2 separate regions of the Homo sapiens genome follow, and region 2 is reported to be linked to region 1. Evidence: microRNA targets listed by miRTarBase, many of them from high-throughput screens and not tested one by one. Region 1 holds a microRNA gene; the other region holds the end of a gene's coding sequence.

Region 1 (4,256 bases):
TCCTAGTGTCTCGCTTCCCCCTCTATCAAATGCAGGCAGCACTGACATTTCATTCTGCTAACCTTTCACCACAGCGGGATAAAGTGGAGAGTGGAGGGCAGCGAAAGGAATACCACTGGGGTATTTAAAAGTGATGAGGGCTCTCTGGCACTAGACAGAACAAGCCCCCAGATGCTGAGAAGCCATGAGGAATCCAGACCTCCACCAGGGTTCAATCCCAGTCCAGGTGGGGTGTGGAGATGGGGCAGCCAAGGATGAGGCATGGCAGGACCTCTCTGTTGGGATGACAGGGGCCTGAGTGGGACTGGGGACCAGCACCCAGAGGTAAGGAGCCCGGTTTGAGTTTGACTCTGAGTCCCAGCTACTTCTTGTCCCTATGGAAAGCTTCTCATTGCAGCTGTGGGGGAGAAGTTTCTATCTCAAGCCAACTGCCTACCCAAGGACAGTTCTTGTAGGTGGTGACCAGTCTGGGACAAGAAGCCACACGCACACATACCTGCAAGCAAGTGGGTGTGAGGGCGGGGAGCCTCAGCTAACTTGCAGCATCCCCTCCTCCCCATCCTCCAAAACCCCTCTCTGTTCTGGCTCCAAGGAAGAAACTAGAATGTCAGAAAAACTCGCAAGACAAGCTCCTGTGATTTCAGCCTCTCCCTCAGCACAGGAAGGGGAGCAAGAGGGGCCGTGCTGGTGAGGGCCATGAGTCAGACGTGGCCCATCTGGGGCACTGACCCGCCCCTGTCTACAGGCTGGATCCCAGGAAGGACGCAAATGCAGAACAGTGCCACCAGCCGGACAGCCTCAGCATCACACTCTGCATCCACCTGCCCAGGTCTAAGGGAAGGAGGGGATCCTCTAAGGAGCCACCTCCAGTCTGTGGACAGCTGGCAGCTGGGCCAGAAACTTCCAGGGGCTTCAACTCTACTGCAGGGCTGGCATCCCCAATCATCTCAGGAGCCTCAGTGGGTGAAGGTGAGGCAGAGAGGGCAAAACAAACTCTCTGGATCGCCAGGACACAAAGTCCCTTGTGCATCCCCTTCCCCCGGCCCCTGCCAGCCCAGCCAGATAGGGAACTTCCCTTTCATAAATGACTCTGCCCAGTCAGAATCCTGTCTGCAGAGAGGAAGAGATCCAGCACAGGCCTCAATGCTCATCAGCCCTAAACGCAAATCCAAGTGCTGCCTCTTGGTGGCTGTGTGACCTTTACAAGTCACCTCATCTCTCTGAAATGCTGCTCTACCAAAGGGAATAAAATACGTACCTTGCGGGGTTGTTGCAAGGACTAGATGAGCTCATGCAGGTAAATAAAGACTCAGCTCAAGGGCTGGCTAAGAGCTCAAAACACAACTGTTGCCAACGGCATCCGCACGCATCCTCTCCTGTGCCTTTCACGTTTGCCCACACTCCCCACCCGTGGCTTTATGGCTGCAGTCCGGGGGACCCAGAGGCAAGACTTAACAGGGACACCCACAGTGACCCCCCTGCTTGCACTCCCGCCCCCTGCCCCCACGGGCCAGGCATACCTGATGGGCTGGAGGTGGGGCTGGACACTCGGGGTGACCCTGGTGGAGCCCTGGGAAGGAGAGAAGAGAAGCAGCATTATGCAGGGGTGGGCAGGATGGCAGGAGGAGCACACCAGAGAGCTGTCCACGGGGGCAAACATGATCCTCTTCTTTCCTTGCCAACATTCTGGCCCTGCCACCCTAACCCCTGCAAAAACACAGCCTGCCCGAAGCCAAAGCCATCAACACTGATTCCACGTGAGTGTGCCTGCCTGTGTGCAAGCCCCAGAGGGACAAAAGGAAGAATCCCGAATGCTGAGGAGTGCACCCCACTGGGCTGGTGCCATCCACACTGAGGGCACACTCAACAGTTACTGAATCAATGGAAACACACTTCACTTTGATACACTCGCCAACACAAGAGAAACCCCAGGAGGAGAATACGACTGCCACCACAAAAGGAGCGATGAGAGTAATGGCGCCCCTCTGTCTTGCCACCATCACCCCACACTTCTCTGCTTGAAAGCTGTAACATCAAGTCATTCAATTGAGTTTAGAGACCAGAACAGGCAGGTGGAGCATGCAGGAACCAAGACGAGGCCTAAGACAGTGAGCCATGCTCCTGAGGGCCCACTCCCCACTGTCTGTGGCAGACAGTAACCATCTCACCCACTCCCCTTTTCACAGCTGTCGAGTGGTACAAACTTAAGCAAATGGGCCCAATCCATCCCAGGGCAGCAGGATGGCATGGCGGGTGTGAAAGCACAGGGTCAGAGGCCCACAGACCACAGAGTTTGGATTCCAGGATCCTGCTGGGCAGCCCTGCCAGTTACTTAACCCCTCTGAGCCTCTTGTAATGTCACATGTAAAATGGGACAACCTTCAGGCTGGCAGTGAGGATCCAAAGGAGTTATGCATATAAGGCACTTCGCATCATGCCTGGTATTTACCAGATGACAGCTGTTGTTTTTGTTGTTACTTTTGTATCAAGAAAAATGAAAAGGGTAGTTACAACCAAACATTCACCTCTATAGAAAACCAACACCCTGCATCGCCTCTACCCATCCTTCCAGTCACCTCACAGGATGCAGAATTGGGAAGGCCAGTTTCTAGATTCTCAGACCTCCTGAGCCCATTGACACCTTCCAAACACCCATGTGCCTCTCAGAAAATGGTCTTTTCCTACCGCCAAGTTGCAGCCTCTTCTTTAAAGAGACAGGACCACAATCTGCCAAGAAAGGAAGAAACTGAGGCACAGAATAACTTACCCTCAAGTCCCTGGGAAGTTGACGGCCAGGCAGGATTCACACTCCAACCTGGGGCTTGACCACGGGGTCTCCAAGAAGAGGAGCCCCTGCACCCCTCTCCTGGCTCCGCAGTGCCTACGAGGCAGGATAGGTGGGTTCCGAGGTCCAGCTCCCAGCTGAGCCCCAAGTTAGAGCAGCTCTGCTAAGAGGGGGACCCTCCATCCAGCTGTCCGGAAGAAGGCTCTGCCCAGAGTCCCAGCTGCCTCGGACCAATGAGCAGCTCCTCAGCAGTGAAGGAGGGAAGAGCCAAGTGGGGCTACTGGGGGGAAGTTTCTAAGTCTCACAGCTCTTCTGGCCCTGAGGACTCCAGTTTGCATGAGTCAAGCTTGGGGGTGGGGGGATTAGACAGGGGTGGAGCTGGGAGTCAACGAGTGACTGTGTTTGGTTTTCAAGACCCAAACCAGGCTGTTCCAAAACTGCCCCCTCAGAGGAACACAGAAACCCAACAGTTCACCCATCTCCATTTCACTGGTCCCTAATGAGGAGTCCCTGAATCTCCCCAGGCCCTAGGCCCTGCTCCAGGCCCCAGGGCCACCCTGCTATAAATAGCCCCTTGAGTTTCATCTGTTGCTGATCCGTAGCCACTTTTGGAGGAAGCCACCACAGCTGCTTTGAACAACTGGAAGCCACAACGGTAGCCAAGACGTGAGGTGTGGCCAGGAGCATGGGACCAGACCCAGGGAGCTGGAGAAAGACAATGGGCCATATTGATATGGGCTTGGCAGGGGGAACTGGGGAACCAAGGGGGGCCGGGAGCCTGCAAAGGTGCAGGGGTAAGCAGGACAAGCAGGACAGGAGACCTGGCTCCCCTTTCCCCACCGCCCTCTTCCAAACATTACAACACTCCACATTCCTCAGCCTCCCCACCCCAAAAAAAGCCAGTGAAGATAAATAAAAACTTGGCCCAAACAGAGTCTGGCCAGGCCGCCTCCAGAGGTGATAAGGCAAAGTCCAAGCCCGCTCTGCTCCACCGGGCGGGGAGGGGAGGGGAGGCATGGGGAGGAAGCCACCCTGGACAGTGACCCCAGTGCAGAGGATGGGGGACGAACAGCTGGGACTGTCATCCCCTGATGAATCACTGGGCTGCCCTCTCACTGACGGGGCTTCCTGTTTTCTGCAAAGTTTGGGGGCACGTGACCCTTGCTGGCGGACAGCAGACATGCACGGTGACACGTCTGAGTGTCGGTACACACAGACAGACAGAACTCAGAGAACAACAAATGGGCTGGGGCAGGGGCACGGCATGTCAGCAAACACACCCTACTGCTCCAGAAACACAGGTGACCTCACACGAGGCTAGAGATGGTGCCTTTGGAAGCATGCCTCATCACGTAGGCTTTTTACAAGCACAGTGGGAGTAACACAAGGCATCCGGTCATCCCTGGGCCTCCAATCTTCATGCTCATTCTCTCATTCAGCAAACATCCACCGAGTGCCACCAGCTGTGTGC
Region 2 (4,000 bases), not on the chromosome of region 1:
GTGAGGAGATGGTGAGATGGTCAAAGCGAGAGGGAAGGGCCTTTCCTTTCCGGGCCGTCCTGATGGAATTTAGGTGAGGGGTGGGTCACCCAACCTGCCTGTGGTCTGGTGGCTAATGTGAGCACCTCCCTCCCAGCCCTACCTTCACAGGCGGTAGTTTCCCTGTTTCTGGTCCGTGCTCCTCCAGCTGGGCCTTCTTCCCCTGACCTTGCTGATCCTTGGTGACCACCTCCGAATGTCAGAATCCACATCGTTAGGCTCACAATGTGGGCTGCTTTTGCCCCAGTGGGTCCAGTTGCCCCAACACGCTGTGTAGTGCTGACCAGTGTTTACGTGTGGGGTCGGCTCCATTCCTCGCTTTCTCCCGAAACAGATGTCAATGCCAATCGCATCATCCCGAGGAGACGTGGAGAGTGTCCGCCGCTGCCTGGCTCACAGCCTCTTCATGAGCACCGCCGAGCTTCAGCCAGATGGCACCTATGCCACCACGGACACCCACCAGCCAGTGGCCATCCACCCGTCGTCTGTCCTCTTCCACTGCAAGCCGGCCTGCGTCGTGTACACTGAGCTGCTCTACACCAACAAGTGCTACATGCGGGACCTCTGCGTCATAGATGCACAGTGGCTGTACGAGGCTGCCCCTGAGTACTTTAGGAGGAAGCTGAGAACCGCCAGAAACTGAGCCGCCCCAGGATGCCGCCAGAATCACTGGTCCCTGGGAGCTTGGACTACAGTTGTCCTTACAGCAGGCTTCCAGGTTGGCGCTTAGAGAAGCCTTGGAATCAGCTGAAGGTGCCTGACTTCCAGGAGCGTGAAAGCATCTTTGCTCAACTCCTGGGACTGAACCATATAGACATGGACATATCATTTGTACCTGGAAACCTCAAAATTATGCTTTTGGTTCTTACTGGGTGACTTTGACTTAATTTAACACCTGAGCCTCAGTTTTCTCATCTGCCAAATGGGAGTAATAATAATAATCCTTATAAAATTGGGTTCATAAAGTTTAGAGAAAAGGAATGGAAAGTACCCAGAACTATGCCTGGAGCACGCACGACACACGTACAGTGAGTTGGGAGCCGTTAGGCTGAATGTTACTGCTTGCCATATGATGTGAAGTACAGCAATATCCCAAGTTCTTGTGACTGAGGGAGATTTTCTGGAAGGGCCACAGGAGGTTGCGGAGCTTGGATGTTGCCCTTAGTTCTTGTTTAATGTCTCTCTGAATGCAGTTTTAAAATAGAAAACAAAACTGACTTCTGTAGAAGTTTCCAGAGGGAGGTGCTGTTATCTCGTACCTCCTGGGATGGCGATCCCTACTGAACGCTTGTGTCTCAGGGTGGACCACTCTGTGTCTGTCTCCAAGCAGAGACCAGTAAAGGAGCCTCCTGGTCCTCAGTGCGTGACCCTGTCAGTGCTTTCAGGAGACATGTAAGCTTCCTGGGTGAAGGTTGATTTGTACCTTCTGAATCCTGTCACGTGTAGACATGGGAAACTGACCTATCAGTGTTTTGTGTGTGTAGGTGACTCCCACATACACAGTTGCCATTTTTCTCTCTAACTGGGCACCAGTGAACATGCGGGCATGAGGAGTGACTGTGTACCATTTCAGCTGTTTCTTTTCGGGCAGTCCCCTGGTCAGAGGGGGTGGGGGTGGGGGAGGGGAGAGGGGTACCTAGAACCCAGAGAACATTGGCTTATGCCAGATACCACACCACATCTGGGCTTACATTCTTGTATCTTTTTTGGTGTGTGGGCGGGGGGGGTGGGGGGCAGTTCAGTGAAGTCTAGAAGACCTGCTGGACAAATTCTAAAAGAGCTAGAGCTGTAACACTTATTCTTGCATCTTATTAATTTTCTATGATATTTTTTCCTTCTTCGTAGGGACTTGGGACAATCTGGCTTTGCTGCTTTCTAACTGCTAGGCACCTCTCTCTAACCCTCATTGTCAGAGGGAATTGGAGGATATCCACAGTCTGTTCCTGTTCTGATATTCTGAGCAGAGAAAAGGCACTAACGGTTCCTCTTAGCTATTTAATTATCAGAAGCAAGTAATCTTTCCCCAGATAATATTTTGCCCTAGAAGAAGCCGTGATTTAGCTCTTTTATTGTGCTTACTTGGTCCAAATACATCTGTGGGGTGTTTTGTCATTTCTTAATGAATGAATCATAGTTATAACCAGGGGCCAAGCTGCCCAAGAGGCTCTTCAGAGATCATGGATGCTCTCTTTCTGGAAGCTGTGGCCTGATGGAGCAGCCCCATTCCAGGGTCCCATCTGTCCGGAGTTGTGTATGTCAAGTCCGGCTCAGTCTTTATTTCCAACACTAGCCGTGGTCCTGTGCAGTCAAGCTCTCAGCTAGTGTTTAGGGCTGTCTGTCAGAAATGGTTATACGTGGGCAAAAGAAGATCTGACAGCTCCTATATACCTTATCTTACTGAATTCTTAAACTTTGAACCAGTTCTTCCACTTACTGACTTGTTACCACTGCTGACTTTCTGAAAAGTTTTCCAGTTTTTGTTTTTTGTTTTTTGTTTTCCAGTAGGGGATTAGAATGTTTAGTCCTACTTAGTAAGAAAAATATTGTATTTTTAATCATTCATAGTGCTGGTAAAAAAAAAAAAAAAAAAAAAAAAATTGGGGGGTGGCCGGGCGCAGTGGCTCACACCTGTAATCCCAGCACTTTGGGAGGCCAAGGCGGGCGGATCACCTCATGCCTGTAATCCCAGCATTGGGATGGGAGGCTGAGGTGGGTGGATTGCTTGAGAAGTTCAAGACCAGCCTGGCCAACATGGCAAAACCCCGTCTCTACTAAAAATAGAAAACTTAGCTGGGCATGGTGGCACACGCCTGTAATCCCAGCTACCGGGGAGGCTGAGGCACAAGAATTGCTTGAACTTGGGAGGCAGAGTTTGTAGTGAGCCAAGATCACGCCACTGCATTCCAGCCTGGCCGACAGTGTGAGACGGTCTCAGAAAAAAAAAGAAAGAAAGAAAGAAAAAGAAAAAACTTGGGGTAATTTATGTCCAGCTTAAGTACCTGAACAGTTTCCGGAAATGTATATTTTTTTTCTGAGAGGCAAAGGATGTAAACAGCTTCTAAGTAGCTTTAATGTTTCTGTACAGAAATAAGTTTATCCCTGTAACATTGTGGTAGAGTTTTAATACAGTATTTAGTTTTTTATTGGGCTTTTTTAAAAAGTTAACTTTTAACATAGCTGCTCAGGGATTAAATCAGATTGGAAAACCCATTCTGACTCCACATACTGCTACAAAGAAATACATCGTTGTTTATATTGAGCTGCAGGAGATAGTACACTTTAAACTTAAGAAAGTTAAATGTTTCACAATAACATTGCAATATAATCTTCAGCTACTCTCTTTCCATTGGTAAAATCTCTGATGGTGTGATAACTCTTTGCCAACCTACGAAACCCATATCTGGAAGAATCACCAGCTCCCGTGAGCAGCTTCATGTAAATAGATGCACTCCAAGCAGATTGCATGCCTCAGGTGTTTGTCTTCTAGTAATCATGGAGTGTGCAACACCCAGAGTAACACTACAAGGGGCAGGACTGCAAACAGCAGGTCCTGGCTAAAAACCCTTAATGCTGCATTGCTGCCAGTTGTAAAGAGATGCCTGAATGGAGGCAAGTTCTGCCCTGTGGGTGAAACTGATGATGTACTGTACTGTCATATATAAATCCACTAAATCCAGCTACCAGGAACTGCCTGGAACTGTGGCCATGCATTTTTTTTTTTCTTTAAAGACCAGTGTGATAGTAGGCCATGCATCTGAGATACGATATTCCTTGGTAACTAGAGGGAGAAAAAAAAATCAAGTAGGTTCAGGCTTATGTTGTATTTTGAGAGTCTGGTTTTATTTGAACAGAAATAACTCTACAGAAAGCTCTTGTAAATAATGCTCAAATTTGCACCCGACGATCAAATCCATTAAAAATGAATCTTGTATATGATGTGTGTGGCTTGTTTCTTGCATCT

The links. Region 1 holds the annotated microRNA hsa-miR-6809-3p (CUUCUCUUCUCUCCUUCCCAG, at 1,571-1,591, opposite strand). A microRNA usually pairs through its seed, bases 2 to 8, with sites in the 3' UTR of a target mRNA and lowers its output. Matches are read on the target gene's strand: a 7mer-m8 pairs with bases 2 to 8, a 7mer-A1 pairs with bases 2 to 7 and ends in A, and an 8mer does both.
Region 2: the mRNA of DHX33 is a reported target of hsa-miR-6809-3p. Seed matches in the 3' UTR shown: 7mer-A1 at 1,009-1,015 and 7mer-A1 at 2,002-2,008.

Annotation. Positions count from the first base shown.
Region 1 is chr2:217,898,943-217,903,198 of GRCh38, forward strand. It overlaps MIR6809 (microRNA 6809), which reads right to left and starts at 1,686; the gene lies at 1,571-1,686. TNS1 (tensin 1) reads right to left here. Exons shown (of 33, transcript NM_001387777.1): 7 at 1,521-1,570.
Region 2 is chr17:5,440,887-5,444,886 of GRCh38, reverse strand. It overlaps DHX33 (DEAH-box helicase 33), which reads left to right. Exons shown (of 12, transcript NM_020162.4): 12 at 374-3,970. The coding sequence ends at 682. Among named protein-coding and RNA genes, the nearest start is that of C1QBP, 3.7 kb to the right of the region's middle.